Linked DNA regions of Homo sapiens. The protein of the gene in region 3 interacts with the protein of the main gene of each other region in a pairwise test. Each region holds a gene or a part of one and is shown on either strand. Other genes may lie near its edges.

Region 1 (7,000 bases), on a different chromosome or scaffold from region 3:
ACTTACTACCTTCTTGCTGTGTTGTTGGGCTGATGAATAAAACAAGCTTGCTCTTGTTCTCAGCCTTTCCTTTGAGGCAGGGCTGATCCCTGGAAACCCTTGACTGGTGTCTGGGTGGGAATTCTGACTGATTTGAAAGTAGGAGAGGATCCCCTGATTGGTGGCCTCTTTCTGGAACCCAATTATTTCTCCTAGCTGATTGCCAAGATGGTGACTTCCACCCAGCTACATGTCCAGTCCTTGGGTCTGCTGGACGTCCTCCTCTCCGTTTGACGCAGGGCTGTTCAGAGTCTTTCTCTTTTTCTTTTTTTTTTATTTGAGGTGGAATTTCGCTCTTGTTGCCCCAGGCTGGAGTGCAATGGCATGATCTCAGGTCACTGTAACCTCCGCCTCCTGGGTTCAAGCAGTTCTCCTGCCTCAGCCTCCCAAGTAGCTGGGATTACCGGTGTGCGCCACCCGCCCAGCTAATTTTGTATTTTTAGTGGAGATGGGGTTTCACCATGTTGGTCAGACTAGTCTCAAACTCCTGAACTCAAGTAATCCACCTGCCTCAGCCTCCTAAAGTGCTGGGATTACAGGCGTGAGCCACCACGCCCGGCCCAGAGTCTTTCTCCCCAGAAGGAAAGAAAAAGCTGTCCTTTGCTCTCCAGAACTCCTCACGACCAACTCCTTCCCCCTATCTATGTGCCTCCTTCCCCAAAGAAGGTGGATGGCTTAGTCTGGGGCTTCAGTGAACCTCCAAGGAAGGAATTCAAGGAGAAACCTGGGCTGAGCAGGCTTCCCCCAGACCTGCCCTAAAGCTGGCCTGGGGCTGCCTATGAGGCAGCTGCATCCAGGGTGTTGAGAACACTCAGAGCTGGGAAGGCAGAGAGATCAGTGGCTAAAGCCTCTCAGAATTAGGTGTGGTGCTCAGAGCTGGGGATCCAGTGACTTGGTGCTGATGGTGGGGACAGAGGGGTAAGGGGGCTTTGTGGACCACCCTCCATGGGGATGGCTATGATCATATAAGACTGTGGACCTAAGGGAAAAATCTGAGGCCAAAGTAATATAAGTAGAGAGATTTATTTGGGCCATGTTTGCAGACTGCAACCGGGAGCATAGACTCAAGTTGCCCTGATTATATGATCTGATGAGCAGCAGTTACAAGTGGGTTTTTAAAAGAAAAGAAGGCTGGGTGCAGTGGCTCACACCTGTAATCCCGGCACTTTGGGAGGCCGAGGCAGGCAGATCACAAGGTCAGGAGTTCGAGACCAGCCTGGCCAATATGGTGAAACCCTGTCTCTACTAAAAATACAAAATTAGCTGGGCATGGTGGCGGGCGCCTGTAGTTTCAGCTACTTGGGAGGCTGAGGCAGGAGAATCGCTTAAACCCGGGAGGAGAAGGTTGCAGTGAGCCGAGATTGTGCCACTGCACTCCAACCTGGGCGACAGAGCGAGACTCTGTCTCTAAATAAATAAATAAATGAAAAGAAGAGACAGTTCCTAAGTGATTTACCAAGAATGTACATTAAAATGATATAAGCTATTGATTCATTATACTTTGTTCTTTGTATCACAAATTTTGTTAACATGAAAGTAATGGGTAAAGCAGCTAGTTAGGAGCAAAATGCCTTTAAACAATTGTCCCTGGGAAGGAAGGAGCATGACTGAAGTCTCATGTCTCTCTGGGCTTGACACATTTTGCATACATCACATAGCTCAGACAGCTGCTGAGCTATTTTTCTGTTCTTGTGACCAACAGTTTACACACACATGGAAAACTACAAAATGCTGTTTCTATACAAGCGCCTTGTATTAAGCCTGGAAGTGTTATGGGTGGTAACCATAAATAGTTACAAGAAATAGACTCTTCCCATAATTTCCAAAACATGATTTATGAATGATTTGGTAACGATATCCCTATGCATTCCACTGGGGATCCTCCAGTCTAAATGTAACAGTAGAAAATAACTATGAACTTGGCTGCTGGAATCAGTGAATGGTACACATCTGTTTTAGTTACCCTCCTCTGCTTTGAATGCTGTACATTGCTGCAGTGTACTGTGAAGCATGTAAAGGTAATAAAAAGATGAATGAGTTTGTTTTCATTGACAGAGCTGTTTTTCTAGAAGGAGTCTACAGGGGAAGTCCATAGACACACTGATTCAAGGCAGAAAGTTTGCAGTGCCATTAAAGATGTCAATCAAAGCAGGAGGAATCTGGTTTGTGGAAATGGGAGGGGGAGACTTCCCAAAGAGCCTGGGGTTAGAACCTGATCCCTGAAAGGTTAGGTCTGCAGTTTGAAGCCTTTGTACTTCCGTGAAATCTCACTTGTGCTTCAATCGTTGTGAACCCTGGTGCCATCATAGCTTGCTATAATCTCAAACTTCTGGGCTCAAGCATTCCTCCCATCTCAGCCTCCCAAGTAGCTAGGACTACAGGCAAGTGCCACCATACCCAGATCATTTTAAAATTTTTTGTAGAGATGGGGTTATGAAGTATTGCCCAGGTTGGTCTCAAACCCCTGCCTCAAGCCATCCTCCTGCCTTGGCCTCAAGTGCTGGGATTATAGGGGTGAGCTGCTGATCCCGGCCTCTATTTTACTTCAATCTACAGATGAAACTTTGGAGCCAGGCAGATCTGGATTCAAATGAACCACTTTCTAGCTGAGTAGTTTTTTTACTTAAGTTAAACTTGACTTTTTTTTTCTTTCTTTCTTTTTTTGGTGGAGACAAGGTCTCGCTCTGTCACCTAGGCTGAGTGCAGTGGCACGATCACAGCTCACTACAGCCTCGAACTCTTGAGTGATCCTCCTATCTCAGCCTCCCCAGTAGCTGGGACTACAGGCCTGCGTCACTACACCCAACTAATTTTTGTATTTTTTTGTAGAGATGGTGTTTTGCCATGTTGCCCAGGCTGGTCTTGAACTCCTGAGCTTAAGTTACCTGCCTGCCTCAGCCACCTCCCAAAGTGCTGGGATTACAGGTGTGAGCCACACGCCTGGCCTTGACTTTTCTTATGTATAAATAGTGCATTGTGAGGGTTAAATGAGGTCCCATAAGAAAATGCTTAACACACAGTTTGATGCCAAGGACATGTTCATCCCATTGCATGGGTCAGTGAGCAACCTGTCCTAGTGGTGAGCTATTTTACAGGAATGCTTGTGTAATGATGGCTTGGCCCATTCTTACAGTGACCCCAAGGCCCACAGTATAGTAACTGTGTCTGGGGAGTAGGAGGGAGAAGGTTCCAGCAGGGTAAACTACCTAAGCAAAGGTGGGGCTGCTGGAGATGGGTGGACAGGCCTGAGCTTATGCTGAAGATGGGAATAAAGCTGGTCATGCATTCAACAGGCCAACATGCAGGCTGTAATTTCATCTTCTGGGTTGGCCTTGCCATGGGACTGTTCTAATAACGAAGGGTAGGAACAATTCTGCCAGTGCCTCTCCCTTTAGAACTAAACATGTTGTATTTCTAGCTTACAAATCGTGCTTTATAAACCTCAGTGGCATGCATGTATTCCTCCATTTGGGAGTTAGTTGACGGGAAAGCAAATCCCAGTCCTACCAGTCCTAACTTAGTGTGGCTTTAGGCAAGTTACTGAACCTCCGCAGACCTTAGTTTGTTTGTAAAATAGGCTGTTTGGACAAGATGTGCTCTACCTTTGGGAGAAGATTCTGTGATTCCTAAAGAGGCTGGAGTTTGAGCCTGATCCCTAAACCCAATAAGGCTGTGATTTGAAGTATGCAGCCTTCATACGTGTGTGAAATTTCACTTGGTCTCTTATGAACCCTGAGTATGCAGCTTCCTAACCTGACATTCTGTAATTCTGTAGTCCCCTGAGCAAAAAGAAGCATCAAGTTTTGTTTTATACACACACACGCACACACACACTTAAATATGTTTTTCTTTTTCTTTTTTTTTTTTTTGAGACGGAGTCTCGCACTATCACCAGGCTGGAGTACAGTGGCGCGATCTGGGCTCACTGTAACCTCCGCCTCCTGGGTTCAGCAATTCTCCTGCCTCAGCCTCCCAAGTAGCTGGGATTACAGACACCTGCCACCACGCCCAGCTAATTTTTTGTATTTTTAGTGGAGATGGGGTTTCACTATGTTGGCCAGGCTGGTCTCAAACTCCTGACCTCGTGATCCGCCTGCCTTGGCCTTCCAAAATGCTGGGATTACTGGACTCAAACAATCCTACTTCCTCAGCCTCCTGAGTAGCTGGGATTACAAGCACAAACCACCATGTGCACCTGGCTACCTCAAAGGTTTTCTTCCTAGAAAACTAATATCTAGCCTTGTATGTATTTTAGTAATCCTATCAAGGGACAAGTGTCTTGACTCAGCCCCCATCCCTGATTCCTAGGCACTCTTCTCCTGGGGTCTCTGTCCAGCTATTCCAAAAGAAAACCTGCAGCATGGATGCCTCCTGACTCCAAGTATTTCAGGCTACTCTGTCACCTGGGATGGAGTGCAGTGGCGTGATCACGGCTCACTGTAGCCTTGACCTCCCAGTCTCAGGTGATGTGCCCACCTCTGCCTCCCAAATAGCTGGGATTACAGGTGTGTACCACCATGCCTTGCTAAATTTTTTGTATTTTGTTTTGGTAGAGACAGATTTCCACTTTGTTGCCCCAGGTGGTCTCAAACTGCTGGGCTCAAGCGATCCTCCCAACTCAGCCTCCCAAAGTGCTGGGATTACAGGTGTGACCCACCGCACTGGCCCTTCTATGTCTTCTTGAGAGAGTTTTCTAAACCCAAATTATCACTTCTTATGTATTTTCTGTACATACTTACAAACACACCAGTGGTTCCATTCAAGATGCTGAAAATGGGCCAGGCACAGTGGCTCACACCTATAACTCAGCACTTTGGGAGGCTGAGGTGGGAGGATCGCTTGAGCCCAGAAGTTTGAGACCAGCCTGGGCAACATAGGGAGACCCCATCTCTACAGATAATACTTTTTACAAATTAGTTGGGTGTGGTGGCATGTGCTTGTGGTTCCAGCTTCCTGGGGGACTGAGGCAGGAGGATTGCTTGAGCCCAGGAAGTCGAGGCTGCAGTGAGCCGTGATCATGCCACCACACTCTAGCCTCAGTGACAGGGTGAGAGCATGTCTCAAATAATAATAATAATAATAACAAAACAAGATGCTGAGAATGGAAGCTTCCACCAATATAGAGTATCTTGTTCAAAATCTTTACTGGGCTGGGTGCGGTGGCTCATGCCTGCAATCCCAGCACTTTGGGAGGCTGAGGCAGGTGGATCACCTGAGGTCAGGAGTTCAAGACCAGCCTGGCCAACATGACGAAAACCCATCTCTACTAAAAATACAAAATTAGCTGGGCATGGTGGCATGCACCTGTAATCCCAGCTACTCGGGAGGCTGAGGCAGGAGAATCTCTTGAACCCAGTGGGTGGAGGTTGCAGTGATCCGAGATAGCACCACCTCATTCCAGCCTGGGCAAAAGAGCAAAACTCCGTCTCAAAAAAATAATTTTTTTTTTTTTTACTGTAGTCCTTACTAGTCTTTGTAGTCGTTTGTAGTTTGTTCTTTGTAGTTGGTATTTTTCAGAGGTCACATACTCCTCAGGGTGGTTATGTCGAGTGGTAGAAAGATCATGGGGCTTTATGATATAATTACATACAGTAAACTGCACAGATCTTTTTTTTTTCTTTTTTTTATTTTGAGACAGAGTTTCACTGTTGTTGCCCAGGCTGGAGTGCAATGGCGCAATCTTGGCTCATCACAACCTCCGCCTCCCAGGTTCATGCGATTCTCCTGCCTCAGCCTCCCAAGTAGCTGGGATTACCCGCATGTGCCACCACGCCTGACTTATTTTGTATTTTTAGTAGAGATGGGATTTCTCCATGTTGGTCAAGCTGGTCTCAAACTCCCGACCTCAGGTGATTTGCCCGTCTCGGCCTCCCAAAGTGCTGGGATTACAGGCGTGAGCCACCGTGCCTGGCCTGTGTCTGGCTTTTTTTGCTCAGAAGCCAAGGAGTGCTTTTGGGAGGAGCAGCTCATTAACCTTGACAAAAACTCACAAAAGTGAGTTTTACGTATTAAACAGCTCAATGTTTCAGAGTTCTGTATGTATTCTAGTATTATTCCTTTGTCAGACATGTGGCTTACAAATGTTTTTCCCCACTTTGTAGCTTTTTTTCATCCTCTTAAAAGGGTCTTTTGCAGAGCAAAATTTTTTAATCCTTTTTTTTTTTTAATTTTTTGAGAAAGGCCTCACTCTGTCACCCTGGCTGGAGCACAGTGGTGCAACCACGGCTCAGTGCAGCCTCAACCTCCTGGGCTCAAGTGATCCTCCTGCCTCAGCCTTCCAAGTACGTAGGACTATGGGTACACGCCACAAAGCCCAGCTAATTTAAAAAATTTTTTCATAGAGATGGATGGCACTGTGTTGCCTAGGCTGGTCTCCAACTCCTGTGCTCAAGTGATTTTCCCACCTCAGCCTCCCAAAGTGCTAAGATTACTTTACAGACGTGAGCCACTATGCCCAGCCCATATAGCAATTTAAAAAAATTTTTTTATAAAGTCTAATTTATTAAGTCTAGTTTATAAAGTCTAGTTTAGTGAGTTTTTTTTTTTAGATGGGATCTCATTATGTTGCCCAGGCTGGTCTCCAACTCCTCGGTTCAAGCAATTCTCCTGCCTCAGCCTCCCAAGTAGCTAGGATTACAGGTGCATGCCACTGCACCCAGCGCTCAGTGAGTGTTTTTTTTTGTTGTTTGTTTGTTTTTAATGGATCTTGCTTTTGGTGTCAAGCCTAATAACTTTTTGCCTAGCTCTAGATCCAGAAGATTTTATAATTTTTTTTTACACTTAAGTCTGATTCATTTTATTTTTGCTTATATAGAATGTGAGACTTAGTCAGAGTTCATTTTTGTTGTTGTTGTTGTTGTTATTTTTTATTTTTTTTATTTTTTATTTTTCGAGACGGAGTCTCGCTCTGTTGCCCAGGCTGGAGTGCAGTGGCGCGATCTCGGCTCACTGCAACCTCCGC
Region 2 (10,834 bases), on a different chromosome or scaffold from region 3:
AGGAGCCCTCTGCACTAGACCCTGCCCCTGCCGTGGCGGGGCTGGGCTGCTGAGGGAGCCCGCACCACGCACGCCTGCATGTGGACCGCCCGGAGCAGAAGGGACGTGCATGTGACCGGCTTACACAGAGCTCCCATTTCAGCCTTTCTCCCTTACCGGGGGCAGGGCAGCGACGGCTTCCTTGATCTCAGAGAGGATCACATGGCGGTGGATATTCCTGGGTGCACGCTGGTAGAGCACCTTCCGCCTAGGGCCGGGGAGAAACAAGGCACAGCAGATAAAGCACAGCAAATGAAATGGTAACCGCCATGGAGCCTCGGCCCCCACCCCCACCCAGCACGAGGCATCTCGCTGCATCTCTGGTGGCTGCAAAAACTGTACACTTTACTCTCGAGCAGAGGCACCATGGCTGGTCCCTGGCCTGCGGCTGGGGAGCCTCTGGGGACCAATCCCAGCCACATGGCCAGTGACTCAGCCTCTTCATCCAAAGAACAAGAACGATGAGAGCCGTAGCCAGTGGCTTCTTGTGGGAAGTCACTGAGTTCATCTCCATGAAGGGACACCTGGGTGTGTCACCATCGTCACTGCTACGGCTACAGGCACAGGCACTGGTCCCTGCTGGAAATCGCTCTTGGAGAGCAGTACAGGGAACAAAATGCTCCTGTCCATGAGAATGTCCAGTCCAGTGGGGACAGCAGACACGCGGACGGGCCCATGACTGCCAGCGGCTGGGGGCACCAGCGCCTCTTGGGCACCCCCGGGCACACCTCATGTCCGCGGCACACAGACTTCACTGTGGAGATGCAAATGGGCACCACTCCCAGGCGGTCCTGAGCCTGGCCACACCACTGCACAGAGCCACGGTGCTGATGCACAGAACTAGCACAGGGCCAAGGGCGCAGACAAACGAGACAAGAACAGCAAGGGGATGCCTGTCAGTTGCAGCATATTAGGGCATGAGCCTCCGAAGTGTTCACACACAGGACAGGAGACTCTTTCTCGTCTCTGCCAGATTTCTTTACTCCCAAGATGCTGCTGTGAGAGACTCGTCATCATCTCACAGCTCATGTGGAAACACTGCAAGACCCGAAGGCACCACTCCAGCCCGAGGCACCCGGGAACAGCAGCTCGGTACCCTGCGCTGATCACCACAGCTGCCTCCCAGGAAGCCTCTGGGACACGCCAGGGGCTGTGCGCTGTCTTGTAGGCTCCACACAGGCCCCACAGCAAGGGAGGCCAAGCTGCTCACAGCCCTTCTCGCCTCCCGAATGCGAGGCCCCCGTGTCTGGGATGAGGGTCCCTGAGGAGGGGGCGTGGCAGGGCTTGTGTCAACCCCTAGCTCACCGGTTCTCACAGGCTTCCACGGCTGGGTCCCCGGCGTCCACTGCTTGCAGAACCTCGTGGACGTTCTCCTCCAGCCAGCTCATGGTGGCGGGCTCTTTCCAGAGAAAGTGTGACCTCCCAAGGTACAGGTTCACCAGCTGGCTCAGGGCAGGGGGCTGGCTGGGGGAGAGCAAGGGCTCTGAGCAGAACCCCTCTTCAGACCACAGCCTGCCTCGAGGCTGGCAGAGCCCCATGGATGGGCAGACGGGGGGTCCAGGGAGTGCCCTGTGGCCTGGAGTGAAAGGAGGCCCCTGGGCTGCTGGCCTGAGGGCGTGGGGCTGGGGCACACAGGTATGTGCCGTGAGCCTGTTGGGCAGGTTATGTTCTTTAGGAAGCAGGACTGACGTCACAGAAATGTGAAAATGCACCCAGGGCGGGTCCATCTGCGTGCACACAGGGCGAGCCCTGGAGGGCCAGGGGATGACCCCAAGGCGTGCACTTTCTCCTGTGTTTGCTCCCTCTTTGTTTATTTTGTTTTTTGAGACGGGGTCTCACCATCACCCAGGCTGGAGTGCAGCAGCACAAACACAGCTCACTGTACCTTTGACCTCCCAGGCACAAGCCGGCCTCCCAAAAAGCTGAGATTACAGGCATGTGCCGCCACGCCTGGCACCCTCTTTATATGAGCCTCGTTTTTAAGCTGGAGGCTGCTCAGCTGTCCCACCTGGACTTTTCCACACAGATGAGGGCTCCAGAGCCGTCCCATGTCAAATGACAGTCCCCGAGGCCGCCACCACAGCCCCTCCTGCTGCTGGAAGCAGGTCCCTCAGGGCCTCTCAGGATGAGTGAAAATGGCTCCCAGGCTCCGAACCCACAGGCACCCACAGATGGGCACCACCAGCCACTCTTTACCTTATTTCAGCATTGGGTCCAAAGAAGCGGTGACTGGAAACGCTGGCGTCGGGCCGCACACTGCAAGACTCGAGCAGGGGCAGGAGGACTGCAGGGGAAGCGGAGGCTCTGTGGGGGCCCTCAGCACACACCCCAGCCACTCCTAGCCCCCAAGGCAGTAAGGGACACAGCGAGGTCCTTGTCACAGACACAGCTGTTCTAAGGTGGAGAGTCTGCAGGGCCAGCGGCTTGCTTCCGGGTGGTATTCTGAGTTGCTGCTGCTGGCGTGCCCAGGGTCTGAGGCTGGGGGTCTCCTTCACACCAGCCCCAAGGAGGCTGCCAGGGCCCCCATTTGCATCCAAGGGAAGACTCACCCACCACCCTCCACACACATGGGGTTGGGTTTTTTTTTGTTTTTCTGAGACAGGGTCTCACTCTGTTGCTCAGGCTGGAGTGCGTTGGCGAAATCTCGGCTCACTGCAACCTCCACCTCCCAGGCTCAAGCGATTCTCCTGCCTCAGCCTCCCGAGTAGCTGGGATCACAGGCGCACACTACCACGCCCCGGTTAATTTTTGTATGTTTAGTAGAGACAGGGTTTCACCATGCTGGCCAGGCTGGTCTTGAACTCTTGACCTCAGGTGATCCACCTGCCTCAGCCTCCGAAAGTGCTGGGATTACAGGCGTCCGCCACCACACCCGGCTAATTTTTATATTTTTGGTAGAGAAAGGGTTTCACCGTGTTGACCAGGCTGGTCTCGAACTCCTATGCTCAAGCGATCCTCCTGCCTCGGCCTCCCAAAGTGCTGGGATTACAGGCGTGAGCCACCGTGCCCGGCCGGTTGGATGTTTTAATCACAAAGACTGGACCCCATGGCAGGCTGGTGGGAGCGGAGGCCACCTGTGCCCAGTGGAAGAGCCAGCACTGCAGGTTGAGGGCAGAGGCCGCCATGTAGGGGAACGGGCCCCGAGGGCAGAGCCTGCAGTGATCTCCAGTGTTCTGGGGTAAGTGGCAGCGGCTTCTTGGCAGCCCACCTGCCTTCAAGGGAGGTGCTGACGCTACAGCCTGTGACACAGCAGCACAGCTCTGCCACAAAGGACAGGGCCTCCCAGCCGCGTTTCCAGACACGGCTGCACTGGTGGAGCATATGGCCAGCTGCATGCAGCCCCAGAGGAGGACAAAGGTGCTTCTTAGACACAGGGGACGAAACTTTTGGGGTCAGCGAGCAGACTGAGGCCTGGCCAGGCCCCTCTGGGGGGCACGTTTCTGCCTGTGCTAGAAGCTGCCCAACCCCACGCCGTGGGCCTCCTCGGGGCCCAGACAGAGCCCTGGAAACCCACAGAACCGAGAAAGGGATGCTGCTTCCAGGACATCCTAATAGGCGATGAGTGGTCACGTAATGTGTGTATACTAGCTGCACGCAAATAACCCTCACCCCTCACCGCCCCTCGGAGGAGGCCCGTCTTAAGGAGGGATTTCACCCTCACCCCTCACAGCCCCTCGGAGGAGGCCCGTCTTTTTTTTTTTTTCTTTTTTTTTGAGACGGAGTCTCGCTATGTTGCCCAGGCTGGAGTGCAGTGGCGCGATCTCGGCTCACTGCAAGCTCTGCCTCCTGGGTTCATGCCATTCTCCTGCCTCAGCCTCCCAAGTAGCTGGGACTACAGGTGCCGGCCAACACGCCCGGCTAATTTTTTGTATTTTTAGTAGAGACGTGGTTTCACCGTGTTAGTCAGGATGGTCTCGATCTCCTGACCTCGTGATCCGCCCACCTCGGCCTCCCAAAGTGCTAGGATTACAGGCGTGAGCCACCGCGCCCGGCCGGAGGCCCGTCTTAAGGAGGGATTTCACCCTCACCCCTCACAGCCCCTCGGAGGAGGCCCATCTTAAGGAGGGATTTCACCCTCACCCCTCACAGCCCCTCGGAGGAGGCCCGTCTTAAGGAGGGATTTCACCCTCACCCCTCACAGCCCCTCGGAGGAGGCCCGTCTTTTTTTTTTTTTTCTTTTTTTTTGAGACGGAGTCTCACTATGTTGCCCAGGCTGGAGTGCAGTGGCGCGATCTCGGCTCACTGCAAGCTCTGCCTCCTGGGTTCATGCCATTCTCCTGCCTCAGCCTCCCAAGTAGCTGGGACTACAGGTGCCCGCCAACACGCCCGGCTAATTTTTTGTATTTTTAGTAGAGACGTGGTTTCACCGTGTTAGTCAGGATGGTCTCGATCTCCTGACCTCGTGATCCGCCCACCTCGGCCTCCCAAAGTGCTAGGATTACAGGCGTGAGCCACCGCGCCCGGCCGGAGGCCCGTCTTAAGGAGGGATTTCACCCTCACCCCTCACAGCCCCTCGGAGGAGGCCCATCTTAAGGAGGGATTTCACCCTCACCCCTCACAGCCCCTCGGAGGAGGCCCGTCTTAAGGAGGGATTTCACCCTCACCCCTCACAGCCCCTCGGAGGAGGCCCGTCTTTTTTTTTTTTTTCTTTTTTTTTGAGACGGAGTCTCACTATGTTGCCCAGGCTGGAGTGCAGTGGCGCGATCTCGGCTCACTGCAAGCTCTGCCTCCTGGGTTCATGCCATTCTCCTGCCTCAGCCTCCCAAGTAGCTGGGACTACAGGTGCCCGCCAACACGCCCGGCTAATTTTTTGTATTTTTAGTAGAGACGTGGTTTCACCGTGTTAGTCAGGATGGTCTCGATCTCCTGACCTCGTGATCCGCCCACCTCGGCCTCCCAAAGTGCTAGGATTACAGGCGTGAGCCACCGCGCCCGGCCGGAGGCCCGTCTTAAGGAGGGATTTCACCCTCACCCCTCACAGCCCCTCAGAGGAGGCTCGTCTTAAGGAGGGATTTCACCCTCACCCCTCACAGCTCCTCGGAGGAGGCCCATCTTAAAGAGGGATTTCACACATGCTGTCAGGCAGGGTCAGCCCCGAGGTCTGACCAGGTGGCAGCCTCACTGTGCCCGCCACATGTGCGTGGATCGAAGCTACCCAGATGCAGTCAGGGGTCACGGCTGTGCAGGCTGAGTCCATCTGGGCGGCACAGGCCTCCATTCTGCATCCCAGCATGGTGCAGAGCACAACCCTCTCGGCCACACCTCGGCGCTGCCGAGACCTTCCCCTGCTTTGCTCTCCTCCCCAGCACTGGTACAATCCAATGCCCCGCACCTCCCAGCCAGTTCTGTCTCTGCACTCTAGAACACAGGCCCCACGGGGGTCGGGATGCCTGCCACCTCCTCGTGCCTGGCTTGGCACGCAGCGGGTTCCGAGATGAGCCGACCCTCTTTCAGGTTTGGTAGGGCAGGTTTGCAGGCCCTACCAGAGAATGCATGTTTCTACAAGTGTGGGGAAGGACTGGGACCTGGCCTCCACCACCAGGAAGAGCAGCCCCCACGGCTGACAGGACACACCCCTACCCCAGGCGAGACACAGCGCTCACTCACCTCCAGGGAACATGGTGAGCGCCTGCTGTATCAGGAGAGAGGCCTTCTGCCTGGCAGAGCTCTGCTCACACTCAGGGAGGTCTGTCTGCTGGCTCAGCAGGAAATACGCCAGTGGAACAGAGAAGGCAAAATTAGGGAGCTGGGACAGGTTCCGATGAGCCTACGAGGGACGAAGAAACAGAGCGTGGAGCCTTAAGTCATAAAGACAAAATATGTGAGTTTGCAGACGCTCTGACATCACCAGTGAGCCCTACCCCGAGCAGGTATATTCTGCAGGCAACGCAAGGGCCTCTTCCTAACTCAGCATAAAGATAACTTAAAACGTCCACCTGGGGGGCTTTCCGCATGCAGAAGATACAGAGGACGTGGGAGGGCCTGAGAAGTAGACTGAGCCGGAGCGAGGACACCGTGGGGAGTGAGGGTCCCACCTGCCGCCCAGGCTCCTCTCTGAAGCTGAGCAGTTGGTGCTCTCAATGTGGAAAATTTACAGACGAGAGCAGCCCACCCCCGCGCGAGTCTGTGAGAGCAGCCCACTGCCGCGCGAGTTTCCGAGAGCAGCCCGCCACGCGAGTTTCCGAGCAGTCTACCACCGTGCCAGTTTCTCTTGCCTTTCTCAGCCTATGTCACATATTGTAGACATGTGACTCACTGCATTTTTTTCTATCAAAATGGGATCACAGACTCACAGTTTTGTGACCTTAAACACCATCATCAACATTCTTCTGCAGCCCCATTTTGGGGGACTCCCTGAGGTTTCCCTGCACCTACATTTTTGTGAGCTCCAGGAATTTCTATAAACCACATTCCTGGGGGTGAGACTTCCTGGCCAACTATGCCAAATGCTTAAAAATTCAAAATAATTTACCCACTTTCATTATCCATGAACATGTGCTATGAAAAAAATTCAACACAGAAGCAGAGAAAGTCAAGAGCTGTCGCCTTCTCCCCAGCCCCAGGCCCTGCTGGAGGTTAGCGTTACAAAGCCCGTGTCCTTCCAGATAAGTGCTGCCCCATAGGAACATAATGGGAGCCCAGGTGTCAATTTAAATTTTCTTTTTTTTTTTTTGAGACGGAGTTTCACTCTGGTTGCCCAGACTGGAGTGCAATGGCGCGATCTCGGCTCACCGCAACCTCCACCTCCCAGGTTCAAGCGATTCTCCTGCCTCAGCCTCCCGAGTAGCTGGGATTACAGGCATGCACCACCACGCCCAGCTAATTTTGTATTTTTAGTAGAGACAGGGTTTCTCCATGTTGAGGCTGGTATCAAACTCCTGACCTCAGGTGATCCGCCCGCCTCGGCCTCCCAAAGTGCTGGGATTACAGGCGTGAGCCACCATGCCCGGCCCAATTTAAATTTTCTGGGAGCTGCATTAAAGACAAAACAGGTGAGATTAATACGTTATATCTAACCCAATACACCGAAATTATCATTCCAACACGTGTCTGTGTTAGAGTTACTGGGGACAGAGCTCAAGTCTCTCCTGCTGTACTCACACTCTTCCCATGGAACAGGACAGACGTGCTGGGGGTCCCTGTGTCAGCCCCACGCAACCAACCCTCCTTCTACCTCCCGGCTGCATCTTCCTGAACTGCCCATGAGGAGCTCGGGAGTTGTCGGTTTTTCATCATTACCAGCATCACAGTCCTTGCAGGCACACGTGTGCATGTGTACACACGTTTGAGCATGTGTACACACGTATGAGGATTCTGACATAAGGCTGCTGTACTGTCCCTAGGAAAACCACATTCCACTCCGTAGAGGCGGCAAGGGAGACAAACAAGGCAGGAGGACGTGGTTCTGCCCTCAGACGATTATCGTTTCATCCCCAAACGTCCCCTGAGCGCACAGATACTGAACCAAGAAAACAGAAGGAGAAGCAGGTGTCCGTCCCTCCACGGGGCCTCACCAGGCTCGCACCCACCTCCCACTCCTGGAAGAGGCGGATCAGGTACTCGTAGTTCCGGGCCCGCAAGGCCAGGTGGTCGATGAGCAGCAGCATGCAGAGGGGGTCCTCATCCGGCTCGAGACTTCCGGAGGCAGCACAGAGAGCAGAGCAAAGGGGAACAGGGGCATCGTCAGGCTGAGAGTGGGCCTGCAGCCAGGACAGGGAGCGTGGACGGGCTTGGCCCTGAGCAGACACTCACCTCAGGATGAGCTTGCAGTACTCCAGCGCCGTGCGCGGGCAGCCTCGCTTCTCCAGGAAGCTCATCTGCTTGTAGAGGGCCAGGTAGAAGCTCCTAGATCCAAAATAGTTCCACATGAATTACAACGACACAAAGGAGAATGCTCTCTGCTCAGCGCCCCGGCCAGCACCCACTCCACCCCGCCCTCTGCTCAGCGTCCTGGCCAGTACCACCCATTCCACCCCACACACTGCTCAGCGCCCCAGTCAACACCCGCTCCACCCCACACACTGCTCAGCGCCCCAGTCAACACCCGCTCCACCCCACACACTGCTCAGCGCCCCAGTCAGCACCCGCTCCACCCCACACACTGCTTAGCGCCCCGGTCAGCACCCGCTCCACCCCCATTCTGCTCTCTGGGTTCTGCTGGCATTTTCTACGTGCCCAGCACACAGAGATCCATGTCTGGAGAGGAGGTGTGCGCTCTCCTTGTCCTTTACAGAGTTATACACGAATTTGCATACTGAAAATCAAACTTCTTTGAAATCTTTTTTTTTTTTTTGAGACGGAGTCTCGCTCTGTCACCCAGGCTGGAGTGCAGTGGCGCTATCTCGGCTCGGCTCATTGCAAGCTCCGCCTCCTGGGTTCATGCCATTCTCCTGCCTCAGCCTCTCCAAGTAGCTGAGACTACAGGCACCCGCCACCACACCCAGCTGATTTTTTGTATTTTTAGTAGAGACGGGGTTTCACCGTGGTCTCGATCTCCTGATCTTGTGATCCACCTGCCTCGGTCTCCCAAAGTGCTGAGATTACAAGCGTGAGCCACCACGCCCCGCTGAAATCTTTATCTTGTTTTTTTGTTTATTATTTATCATTTACAGGAAGAGAGTTAAAATCTCTTGTTACAATTACGATCTTAATTTATCCTCCAATCTCAACAGTGGCTAACAGCACTCAGGCTGGATACATGGAGCCCTGTGACTTTCGGATGCTGGTGGGCTGCTACTTCCATCAACAGCCCACTGTCTCTTTCGCGTCGGGAAATATTAATATTTTATAATCTACTTCAAAGAACTAAGAATTTCATTGGAAGAGACAAAACTAACATAAAGAAAACCAGTGGAGGAAATTCAGACCCAGCACACAGTGCAGACAATCTGTGCAGAACGGGTCAGCGGACCTTGGCTTGCCAGGAGGGCTGAGAGGGTAGGAGCGGATCCCACACTGCAGACAACCCAGGGCGGCCAGAGAAACAGGGCACTGCACACAGGAGAGGCAGGACAGCGGACAGAAGCTGGTCTGCTCCACAAAGGGCCCACAGGACAGGCTGCGGGAAGGCCTGGCGGAAGCCAGTCTAGGTCTGACCAGCGAGGCCTGATGCCAGAGGGATGGCTTTAGGGGCAGAAGTATCTGAAAGAAGAGAGACCTCCACATGCGGTCGCTCAGCACAGGGGAGCGAGGGTCAGGCTGACTCTGAGCTCCTCACTGATTTAAGGTCAAACCTGCAAAGCCTTCCAAAGCTTCTAAACTTGCCAGGGATGGGTTTTCTCAGCCAAACATAGAAGGAAATGCAATTGCAGAGCCCACTGTGGAGATCTGGTTTCTCAGGCTCACTTCTTCTTCTTCTTCTTTTTTTTTTTTTGAGAGACAAGGTCTCACTCTGCTGCCCAGGCTGGAGTGCACTGGTACCATCTCAGCTCACTGCAGCCTCGACCTCCTGGGCTCACTTGAGTGATACTCTCGCCTCAACCTCCCAAGTAGCTGGGACCACAGGCACGCGCCACCAGGCGCAGCTAGTTTTTAAAATGTTCTGTAGTGGCCGGGCGCGGTGGCTCACGCCTGTAATCCCAGCATTTTGGAAGGCCGAGGCGGGTGGATCGCAAGGTCAGGAGATGGAGACCATCCTGGCCAACACAGTGAAACCTCGTCTCTACTAGAAAATACAAAAAATTAGCCAGGCGTTGTGGCACGTGCCTGTAGGCCCAGCTACTCGGGAGCCTGAGGCAGGAGAATGGCTTGAACCCGGGAGGTGGAGCTTGCAGTGAGCCGAGATCGCGCCCCTGCACTCCGGCCTGGGTGACAGAGTGAGACTCCGTCTCAAAAAAAAAAAAAAAAAAAAAATGCTGTTTTGAGACTGCATGTTGCCACGGTGCTCAGACTGGTCTTGACACCTGGGCTCAAGCAACCCTCCCACCTCGGCCTCCCAAAGTGCTGGGATTACAGGCGTGAACCACTGTGCCCAGCCAGGCTCACTTCTAACACAAACATTTATTTTTATTTTTATTTTTTTAAGAGATGGGGGTCTCACTATGGTGCCCAGGCTGGACTTGAACTCCTGGGCTCAGCAGACCTCCCACTCTGACCTCCACAGTAGCATCAGGCATGTCCACAGACAAAGGTAAACCTGGGCTGAGACAATCCCATCCCTCTATCCTTAAGCCCAGAGAGAGGAAGGTGGGTCACTCTGGACCTGTGGGCCCTGGTCCACCCTGGAGGGCAGCCATGAGGTGCCCACTGCACCTCCCCCAGCCTCACTCGCAGGAGAAGGGAAGGGGAGCTGCGTCACCTCCAGGGCAGCTGCACTCACCTGTTCTCGGGTCTGCGGTAATCCAGCCGGCAGGCCCCACTGGTGAGACTGAACAGGGGGTGGAACGCACATTCCATGCTGTACAGCGCTCTCTCTGTGGGCACAGGGACGCCAGGGGAGGGTGTCATGGCCACACACAGCAACCACGGCCCCTCCTCTGATAATGGACAACAAGGAAAGGTCTGGACGGAAGGTCACGAAACTAGAGTCCTGGACACTGAGAGGGCAGACATGCCCCTGGGCACCCTGGATGCCACGCTGCATTTATTTCAACCACAGAACTTGTGAGCTTGACATGGTAACACTTTCAACACCATGAGGCACAACTGCTGCCACGTCCTGACAGAACCAGGCGTCCATGTGTGCAGCACAGATGTGTCCACCTAAGACTGCGTGTGCATGCTGACGTAAGCACTATTATTTACAACAGCCCACACGGCCGTCAACTAATGATGGATACACAACATGTGGTCCGTC
Region 3 (10,834 bases):
GTAGGTATGTGAGTTCTCCCTAAACTGTTTTTTGTATTCTCCTATATTTTCTTCAATTCAAGACCAAAATTAAGCTAAACTAAGAACCGAAAAGAAAATGTAAATGATTACCTAGTTCCTTCATTAATTTTAATTCCTTTATGGCTTTAATTCGAATATCAAACACCATCTAAAACAGAGAAATAAAATAATGACTAAGTTGTAAAAAATGGGAGGAGATGAAAATGAGGATTGTCACTGTGTGCATAAACAAATTATTTGAGATATTAATTACCTGACATTTAGTAGTTTTTGCCCACTGGAAATTTTTCCATCCCTGAAATCCTTTTATAAGATCAAAAGCAAAAACTTAGGACTTCATAGTTAAGTTTTTACCAAATTGATGTTAATTGGAACAGAAAGGACACCTACAGAAAACTACAGAAACTGTAGAAAACTACAGAAACTAAAGAAACTAGCTGAAAGGCAATAAGCTGACAAACCAGTAACTTTTCTCATGAAAGCAAACAAAATAAACTGCAGGCAATCACATTTCTCTATGTCAGGAATGATGAATGTGGGGCCAGTAAGCATAAATAAAAATGTATACTATCAGCCCGAGTGCACTATTTAAAATTTCTGTTTAAATGACTTTATTTTAGATTCTTTCCCTTTTTCAGTTTAACCTAATTTCCTCTAGGATACAAAATCTTGTAAATTTAGGAGTAAAACCGATGTCAGACAATCTGTCCTCCCACAGCACCCCACATTGTGAAAAGAAGAAACAGAGTGAGTCATAAAGGACTTCACCAAAGTCTCTCACTTAGGGTCAAGGTACTAGATCTTCTGAACTTTAGTGTATTCATCATACAGTGTAAATATTAACACACTTTAAGAAATTATAATATTTATATAAAAGAAAACAACATTCTAGTAAGTTTCAACTTGTTATAGAAAAAAAACCCATAATGAATTGAGACTACATAAATATAAAAAGGTATTTCCTGAGATGGTGTTTAACGAAACTAGTCTTCAAATGGAGAACTGAAAGAGTTCCTTTTAAGAACACCTGGCTTTACAGAAAAACAGAGTATAATGTAAAACAATTTAAGATAAATTTAAAAAACAGAAGTCCACAACACAAAACCAAAACATATGTATACTTGGCTTAAAAAAAATACAGAAAAGACCCTTGAAAACAGCATTTTCAAGGAAGCCAAAGAATTTCATTTTGTGGGAGCCAGAGAATTCCATGAACTAACTAAATGAGTAACTCCCACATTCTAATTCTAGGCTTTGGAGGAAATTTTAAAAGGCACGTATTTTCTTGAAATATGCTAAGGGCTAACATAGGTAAACAAGCAATAATCAAATGTTAAATAAAAAGCTGACTTCCTAAGAGCTGAAGTCTATTGAGACAACTGTTCTGAAAGATTAAGGTATTGTTTTCTAAATAAAATTCTGTTAACTGAAAATCTATCAGCCAACCTTTAATTATATTCTACTCACTGTGTTAACAGTTGCTGATATTTTAACTTGCTTCTCTTCAGATTCTAACTGGCATAAATTTTTAACGTGGAGCCAGTCAATCTCATTCATACTAGTGACCCATTTCTCTTCCTTGGTCAACAAGCTGTAGGTAAAAAGAAAAGATCAGAAATTAATACCTTTCCTTAGGCATCACTTCCAAAACTCTGCATGTGTCACTTAATGTGACTAATTAGAGGTGACCAAGTTCTACTGAGTCGTCTCTATGATAAGTGGGCTACCTTTGCAGGGTAATGTTAGGCAGTAGTCTATAGAGTCTATATTCATGACTCCAAATATTCTTTGATTTACCTACATAATTTGTTGCCACATTTTTCACAGAGAACTTCTGTAAGTAAACAGTTGCTGGCTTCTGCCTGCACCCTGCAAATCACTAGGGGAGCTTTAAAAGAGCACCTATGCCAGGAGCCTACCCCACTGGATCTAGATTTCATTTAACAACAGGGCAGCCATGTGCAGTCTGTAGACTGACACTGCACAAAAGGGCCACATCTAAGGAGTGTCACACATGGCATATATATTGTATACTGCATTTCTACATAGAGTTTTGTTTTATAATTGCAGCCGGCAGTAGAGTATCTTGTTCTAACATTTTCCCACAGATAGTAGTAAAGGGTCCTGAAGAGGTGCCTTCTTTCTAATTCACACAGAAGCATTAATGGGCTTGCCGAAGTCCTCTTTGGGAATGTACATTAGAGCTCTGAAACATCATTCTACTCTTTATTGCAGTTATTCCATTCTGAGCTCCTACCTTAAGCTAGCAATCCCAAATAAAACAAAGTATGAAGCACAAGATGCTCCATGAAGACTACTTTAAAATAGTGAAAAACTGTATGATAATTATGACAATGACCGTAATATATTAACTAAAACATTTAGCACTTACTGTGTGTACTTTGTAAGCACTCAACTCTTTCAATCCTCTCAAGTCTATGAAGTTGGCACTAGTTATTATCCCTATTTGACAGACAAGAAGACTGAGCAGAGAAAGACGAAATACCTTGCCCAAGGTCCCACTACAGCCTACTGACTTGCCTAGGAGCACAGTTAGGCAAACTATAATGTCACATAGATTACTATGTAGCCATTCAAGGCAGTTTATAAAGAGTCTACAAATCTCAAGGTTGGGCAGGGGTAATGGAAAGCAGGATACAACTACTTATCTACAAAATAATCATTATTAGGTTTAAAAAGAAAGGCACCCAAATGCTAACAGTGATTAACACTGCATGCTGAGAAGACGGATACTGTTTTGGGTCCCTTCTGTCTTCACTTTTGTATTTCCCCAGTCCCAATAAATGCATACTGCCTTTTATAAAGGAAATACAGTTCTTATAAACAAGGTAGGGAATGTCTGCAAAACCCCTGTCCAAAAGAGTAATAGTGGTAAGTGTACTACGAAAGAAACGGTCCACAAGTGCTCTGCTTCTCTGCATCAAAGCCACTATAAATAATGATACAGACATCCTGCAATCTAAGTAAATCTGTAGCACTGAGAAAACAGGGAGCTTGAAGTCTTCAATATATGGAAATATTGCAGTTACAGTGTATGACACATTGACTACAGCAATGTACTGTCACAGACATAGATGACAAAGAGATGCAGCTTTAAATGTGACCACAGGATTCATGGGGGTAATTCGCCACGTAACTGCTCTATTTGGGCAACTGGGTTCTCAAGAGTCACAGAACGGATTATAAGGAAACAATGAGTTGTCTTATGGGTCTCCTGAAACAAAATATCCAGAAACAATTTAGCCATAATGTTAATACCTTCTTCAGGAAAATTTTCAGTTTTCTCTGTGAGAATTTCCTTCGGTTTTATAACTGGCACTAATCAGAATTCACTTGATAACTTTTGCATTACAGCCAACTAATTGATACTCTATACAGTCTAGAAAATCAGGGATACTTATATTATTTTCTCACCACATTTACCAAAAAGTCCCTTTACAAAAAATCATGTTTTTCTCTAAGTTACATAACCTAAAACATTCCTGTATGCAATATTTAGAACATAATGTCTAGAAATAAAGAAACATTCAACTCTTGTCACTAAAATAAAGCTTTAGAGTTCTGCTGGGTGGTACTGTAATTAAAATGACTTTTAGAAATCCTTTTTCTCTTGTTAGCGAGTTACCTGTTATCATCATGAGAATCCTGAATTAAAATTGAGCTTCCATTTCTGAGCCCTTGCTCCCTGAACGTCTTCCTCATGTCTTCCTTGGGGATGGCCGTCCAACCCTCCCCACCTGGACATCCAGCACTGTTGATGAAGATGACACCTGCTGGGATTGCTAAGGCTGTGAGGACAGTGCCCACTTCTGCATTAGCTGGAAAGACATGTGGAGATTCTATCACCTGACAACACTTTTCTCCATCACTGCTTGTGTCTAGATGAAGAACATTTAAAAGTAGAGGTTCGCAGTCAATACCAGTTTGAATGTGGACTCCACCAACCTGCAATCATACCAAGACAACCATTAGTACAGCTGATATTTGCCAACACCGTCAACATAACATGGTAAAAGATTACTCTTAGAGAACAACCCTCATTTTTTCCAAGTAAAATAAAATTTTCACAAATGTCTGTTAAGCATCAGAGGAACAACTTCAGATTTTTCTTTTGAAACTTTCTTATCTTTTATTTTTTTAGGAGAAATCTATGATAGACTGGAGATAGACATTTATGAGTTATCATGGGTGGTGATGAAGCCAGATTGGCCAAGGTCAGTTCACAGAGTGGCTGAAGTGCTCCTGGCCGCCTTCTAGAGATAGAAAATTCACTCTCTACCTCCAAACCACCCCCACTCCCCAACTCAGTATAGATTCTCACTCTTCTAAATTCCCACAGGCACTATGCACAGACCCCCTACTCCAGCACGTATGGTGCAGTTCTTCACACGACGAGGGCCTAAAAGGACACAGATCAACTGACTGGCCTTTGATCTAGCATCTGACGCACAACCTGGTATAACGGAGGCGCTCAAGAAATGTCTCCTTGGCGTACAACTAGCACTGATTGTCCCTAACATTTATCAAGCATTTCAGTAGTTTTCTAATATCTAATTGCCCTCACATAGGCTGAATAAAATTTCATTACAATGACTTTTTTTTTGAGATGGAGTCTTGCCCTGTCACCCAGGCTGGAGTGCAGTGGTGTAATCTCAGCTCACAGCAACCTCCACTTTCCGGGTTCAAGCGATTCGCCTGCCTCAGCCTCCCAAGTCACTGGGATTACAGGCATACGCTACCATGCCTAGCTAATTTTTGTATTTTTAATAGAGATGGGGCTTCACTATGATGGCCAGGCTGGTCTTGAATTCCTGACCTCAGGTGATCTGCCTGCCTCGCCCTCCCAAAGTGCTGGGATTACAGGCATGAGCCACCATGCCCGGCCATTACGATGACTTTTAAAACATCCAAAATTATCACGAATATTTCTTCAGTAATTTTTTTTACCTCCACCCCATTCCACACAAAGATGTCTTCCCCATCAGCAATTTCAGTTTCACACAGTGTCAGTTCATCCCCTAGAAAGAGATCACCAGTGAGACCATTCATCATGACCATCAGAAACAACTGAGCTAAAGAAAGAGCTGAGACAAATATTTGTTTGAAAAAGTATTTTCACTAAGGAAAATTTAAAAAGTAGTAATTATTTTTATTCTATTGACATTATTTCATTGTAATTTTTCTTTAAAACGTTGTGACAAAAGCTTGTGAGCATGGTGGCAGGACAAGAGAGATAATCCAAAGGTCAAGTGTACTTGAGGCACATGACATTGGAAACAGGAGTTAGGCTTAAGCATGGAATGGTCCCAACTCCACCGATATGTCCATAACACAAGCTGTATTGTGTGCTTCAAGTCTCTCAGCTTCAGTTTTCTCATTTATGAAATGGAGATAAAAGAATTTTATGAAAATCAAGTGAGATAATTAACATAAAACACCTATTACAGATTTTGGCCCAAATTAGATGTTACTGCCGCTACTGTTAATTCTCATTGTTTTCCTGCTATTTAAAGGAAGTAAATGCTTTCAAACTCTCAAAGTATTTCTTGTTTTACTACAAAATCTGAAGCTGAGAACTGGGCAGAAAATCAAGTCACATAAATATGATTCAGATGGTTTGAAACTATGTTGTTCAACAATATGTGTCAATATAAAAAATTCTAAAGCTTTTCAAGAAATTTTAGTAGAGGTAGCCTTAATTTCAGAAAAAATAAAATGTTTCCATGTTAGAAGAATTTCACACATTATATAAACTGGATACATTAAAACGTGGATATTTTATTTCTTTTGGAAAACTTACAGTGTGAAGATAATCTACTTAGTTAAGAAAGTAGTAGGTGGGGAAGGACTGACAAAGAGTAGAAAATCGCAGGTGAGCCGGACAAAAATGTAGATATATAGAGTGAGTTGCTATGTTTTCATATTTATCTTACCGCCAAGTGACTGGTAAATGTGAAGTCCTGCTGGTACAAGCTTTGCAACACTAAGAACCATGTCTCCTTCCCAAAATTCTAACAGCTGAAGAATATTAATGAAGGAAAAGAGAATGTTGAAAAGTGACATATACATATCACCTTTCCAGGTTACTGTGCCAACTCACATATGAAGATGACACAGAGAGCAAGCAAATGAATACTCTCACCCCCACCCAACACCGAAAACTTGAAAAGAAGGCATCACTTGTTAAATTAGTCAAAGCCAAAGACGGCTAATCTCCTCCATTCCTGAGTGAAGAATTCTGGCCTACACAAAGGGCACAACAACCATCTAAACAATTCTGCTTAATATATATGAAGAGCACTTTTCTCAGAAAGCAAGTTGATGAGCATGTCAGCCTAGGAATTTTTACTCAAAAGAGCAAGACTAATTTGCAGAATTAGCAATGTTGAGGGAAATGTAGCCCTGACTCTAGCACACACTCATCTTCTAGCTGCTTGAAAGGAATGTCTCCCATTGCAAATTTATAAAGGTGCATTACCAGTTTACTTAATAGATTACCATGGCTTTGCTCTTTAAGTTTCTAGATCTGAGAGTCTGAGCACTGTGGCAAGGTCACCAAAATAATATCACCATAAAAGTCATTCCTATCTAGTCATTCTCTACAATACCATAAGGTATTTTCTTAAAAAGAAACTTCTTATTTACAAGTGATTAGTTTGCTGTGAATTAAGTTTTCTAGCCTCTTGTCAGTGGCTTCCTTCTAAGAGAATAGTTAGTAGGCATATACACTTAAAACACCAAAACACACAGACTGGAGTGTACCTCACACTTACAAAGTGAATAAGATCCTTTCCATTTAAAATATCCCCCTAGACTAGGTTCAGATTCCCACATCTGCCTGTATCAACAGTGCCAGAATTGGCTCAGAAATAAATTTCTAATGAAAAAGTTCAGAAATATTAGACAACTTTAGAAATCCTGACACTGATCTAGTATTTAAAAAACTTCAAATCAACTAAGGTTAAAAGGGAAATTGCTTTGCTTTTCTTAGCAGAAGAAAATTGAAAGAAAGCTAATAGTTTTGGTAATAGGATTTTTCAGAAAATTCATTTAACTAATTTCTGGGAAAAAACACAAAAAAGCTAACATTTTCTATCTCCCTTTTCCTTGATCAGAAAGTAGTGTGGAGCAGGAGGGTGATTAGGAGAAAAAAACCCTAGATGAAGAGTAGGGAGAAGAGGGACAGAGTCCCAGCTCCATCAACTAGATTTAGGACCACAGGCAAGACATTGAGTCTCTTTAAATCACACTGCCTCAACTTCAAAATGGGGCTAATGTGTCTTCATGAGATTAAAGAACCAAATCACATGATTTATATGAAAGCAGTGTAAGTAAAATAAAGAACACTGCTGTTGCTATCATCATTAAAACATACCTAGAAAAATGACTTGGAGACTACAGCACTGTTTTTACTCTAGACTAGCAGATACTTTCCTTCACTTAAGAATATTATTAATAAATACTGTTCTATACTACAGGGTATAAAGTTAGTTGCGTTTATTTGTTCAGCAGTTCTCAGTTTTACACAACATGCTCATCTTTATCTTTTCACTCTCTTTGAAAGGCAATTTGCTTTCATTTATTTTCTAAAAAAGAGACAACTTTATACTCTTTCTTCCCCTCAAATAAAATGTACCAGGCCTGATTGTCTACCTGAAAAGCTGCTGGTAGGAGCTGTGGAGAAAAGCCTCTCTAAAAGACTTAGGAGAGAAGATTTGGGTCAACCCTCTATGAAGTGGCAGATGTCAGATCTTCCTAAGCAGCTTTGAAAAATAAAGTTGTATCCTAAACAGAATGAAATGGAGAGTCTAGCTGGAGATGGTGCTCGATGTCTGAATTAAGAGGAAGTAAGGCGATATTACCTGAAATATTGACTGCCGGAGATCTCCTAAAGTTTTTCTTTTATCAAAGGTCAAATCCCACACGCTTTCTGTTTGAGAGACTACTGGGTGCAGAGCCCCATTGAAGAAATGATACTGAGGGCCCAGGTGAAGATGCAATTCAAAAGTATTGTTTGCAGAATCACATTCTGCCCTTTAAAGAGGCACAAAAATACATAAATACTGTGTTTTTATAACAGACACTGTGTTTTATCTCAAACCAAAGATATCTGGCTTACAATAAAGTTCTCCATCCCACCAAAGTAACAATTTTTCTTCTATGTGCCACAATTAGTCACTTTAATTTTTCAGTCAATAGCAAAAATTCAGTTCTGTCACCATGAATTCCAAGAGAAAACTGTTTTAACATAGGCTGCAATGTTAACTCCATTTCTCTGAACAAAGGCTGACACTTGAAATCTTCTAATTCTGAGATTATATTATAGTTATGAACAAAATGCTAGAGACCTGCTTACATCATTATGTTAAGTAGCAGATTTACTTCCATGTCATCTATCATCCTTATTTCCACTAGATTTTGCACATTCTCCCATGATTTTTTTTTTTTTTTTGAGACAGAGTCTCACTCTGTCGCCAAGGCTGGAGTGCAGTGCTGCGATCTTGGCTCACTACAACCTCTACCTCCTAGGTTCAAGCGATTCTTCTGCCTCAGCCTCCTGAGTAGCTGGGATTACATGTGTGTGCCACCATGCCTGGCTAATTTTTGTATTTTTGGTAGAGATGGGGTTTCACCATGTTGACCAGGCTGGTCTTGAACTCCTGATCTCAGGTGATCCATTTGCCTCAGCCTCCTAAATTGCTGGGATTACAGACGTGAGCCACTGCGACCGGCCCCATGAAATATTTGAAGCCAGTAGCATGAACCTCCCGAGACCACATTATCCAGGCTAAAAGTCCTTGGCAGCAGCCTGGTGTTGGCTGCTCTTCTCTGAATCCACTTGGCTGACTCGAAGCCAGTGCGAAACACAGGTAGGGTCTGACCAATGTGGAGCTGGAATGAGGCTTATCACGCAACTCACGTACTTCAGGACACTTCAATGAACATGGTCAGAGAGCACAACCACACGAAAGACCTTAGTGCGGGTTGATGACAGCCCCTCAGGCTCTGCCTTTTATTTTTTTATTTTTATTTTTTTAAAATAACAACTGCTAGTCCAGACCACTTATGCAGGTTATTTTTTAGACTTAAGATATTTCGCTCTGTTAAGTTTTAATCTTTTTGGTATCTTGGTTTTTGTTGTTTCTTTGCTCGTGTCATTCACTGTACTTTTTTCCCCCAGCTCCAAGCCAATGATAAAAATGTCAAATACACCCTGTCACATAATCAGGCAGTTTGGTCCACAAGGAGATCACGGTAACATCCATTTTCCTAACCCAATACCCTATTGACCCTAACAGAGCACAAATAAAGAAGCAGTTCAGAGTCAAAGGTGAGGCCCCAAAAGAGAATGCTGAGATCATAAAGTTCTCACAAACCATCTCTTTAAGTAAGAATCCATCATAGGCTTTCCCCCAAGATCAGCATTGCATTCAATAGGTTATAGCATCCATATTTCCCTCCTTTTGAAAATCTGCCCACCACTGATCCTCTCTCACTACATGCCAGTTCGCTACAACTACTTACCTATGAGGGGTGATTTTCATGGCAGGCTCTCTTTGGACCCAAGGAAATAATCTGGCCAGGCCAGGATACAATTCATTCAGCCCAACTATGTGCTCACTGATTTCTCTACTCTTGTTAGGCTTCGATCCCTACTTAGCAATGGCTGTTTTATATGTCACCATTTAATTCACTCTCACACATAAGGGATAATTTCAGAGTTAAAGTTACCCTCACTATAAAAATTCAGCAGCCAAACAGACACTTGCATTAACAAGTTGACTATTTTTTTTCTTTTTAATTTTCATTACTGAATGCTTAAGGCCTAAATCAGATCTTTATTCTCCGGAATACTAGTCAAACTCTAAAAGCAATTTAAAATTACCTTTTGGTTTGCAGTTCAATGTTAGCTGCATCCATTTCATTCAGTAAATGACATGGAACCCCATATCTTGGATTAGCTCGAGCTGTGAACAAAATTTTTCATTAACTTGTGTTGGCTAAATGAAATCTGGTTGCTGGAAGAGGTAGCATGAAGACTAGGAAGGACTGTCCTAGGAGCTAGGAAAGCTGCTACTAATTAGCTGTGTGAATACGAATTTTCTCAGGATCTCAGTTTTCCCATCTGAAAAATGAAAAAGTTAGAACAAATGAAAAGTAAACATTTCTTTAAGACAAGCTAGAAGAATTCCATTTTTTCAACTCTTTTAAGTATACTTTTTAAAAAGAACACCCAGATTTTCATCTTTTTTTTTTCTTTTTCTTTTTCTTTTTTTTTTTGAGACGGAGTCTCACTTTGTCGCCCAGGCTGGAGTGCAGTGGCGCAATCTTAGCTCACTCTGCCTCCCAGGTTCAAGCAATTCTCGTGCCTCAGCCTCTGAGTAGCTGGGATTACAGGCTCCTGCCACCACGCCTGGCTAATTTTTGTATTTTTAGCAGAGACAGGGTTTCGCCATGTTGCCCAGGCTGGTTTTGAACTCCTGGCCTCAAGTGATCTGCCCGCCTCAGCCTCCCAAAGTGCTGAGATTAAAGGCATAAGCCACCACGCCTGGCCTCAGATTTTCATCTTGATTACAAATACAATAAATGACTACTGTAAAAATTCTGGAATTTTTTTAAGTGTAAAAGAAATAGATACTGCTCATAATTTCACTCCCAAGACACACACACACACACACACACACAGGCACACACACAAACACACACAATTTTAAAAACTGGGATAATATTCAACAAATCTATTTTCATTTCATACACTGTATTTTCCAAAGTCTTAAATAAATGATTACAT

Evidence for each region.
Region 1: the proteins of USP40 (region 3) and ACSF2 interact in a two-hybrid assay, tested with the Homo sapiens proteins (one study listed by BioGRID).
Region 2: the proteins of USP40 (region 3) and TCF25 interact in a two-hybrid assay, tested with the Homo sapiens proteins (one study listed by BioGRID).

The regions. Positions count from the first base shown.
Region 1 is NC_000017.11:50,429,218-50,436,217, forward strand, and holds part of ACSF2 (medium-chain acyl-CoA ligase ACSF2, mitochondrial isoform 2 precursor), read left to right. Parts: intron 1-7,000. UniProt on the Homo sapiens protein: Acyl-CoA synthases catalyze the initial reaction in fatty acid metabolism, by forming a thioester with CoA. Has some preference toward medium-chain substrates. Plays a role in adipocyte differentiation.
Region 2 is NC_000016.10:89,895,607-89,906,440, reverse strand, and holds part of TCF25 (ribosome quality control complex subunit TCF25), read right to left. Parts: intron 10,452-10,834; coding exon 10,358-10,451; intron 7,885-10,357; coding exon 7,792-7,884; intron 7,675-7,791; coding exon 7,569-7,674; intron 5,807-7,568; coding exon 5,647-5,806; intron 2,324-5,646; coding exon 2,236-2,323; intron 1,504-2,235; coding exon 1,345-1,503; intron 248-1,344; coding exon 157-247; intron 1-156. UniProt on the Homo sapiens protein: Component of the ribosome quality control complex (RQC), a ribosome-associated complex that mediates ubiquitination and extraction of incompletely synthesized nascent chains for proteasomal degradation.
Region 3 is NC_000002.12:233,519,503-233,530,336, forward strand, and holds part of USP40 (ubiquitin carboxyl-terminal hydrolase 40), read right to left. Parts: intron 10,011-10,834; coding exon 9,929-10,010; intron 8,077-9,928; coding exon 7,905-8,076; intron 6,061-7,904; coding exon 5,976-6,060; intron 5,061-5,975; coding exon 4,990-5,060; intron 3,988-4,989; coding exon 3,668-3,987; intron 1,613-3,667; coding exon 1,489-1,612; intron 170-1,488; coding exon 112-169; intron 1-111. UniProt on the Homo sapiens protein: May be catalytically inactive.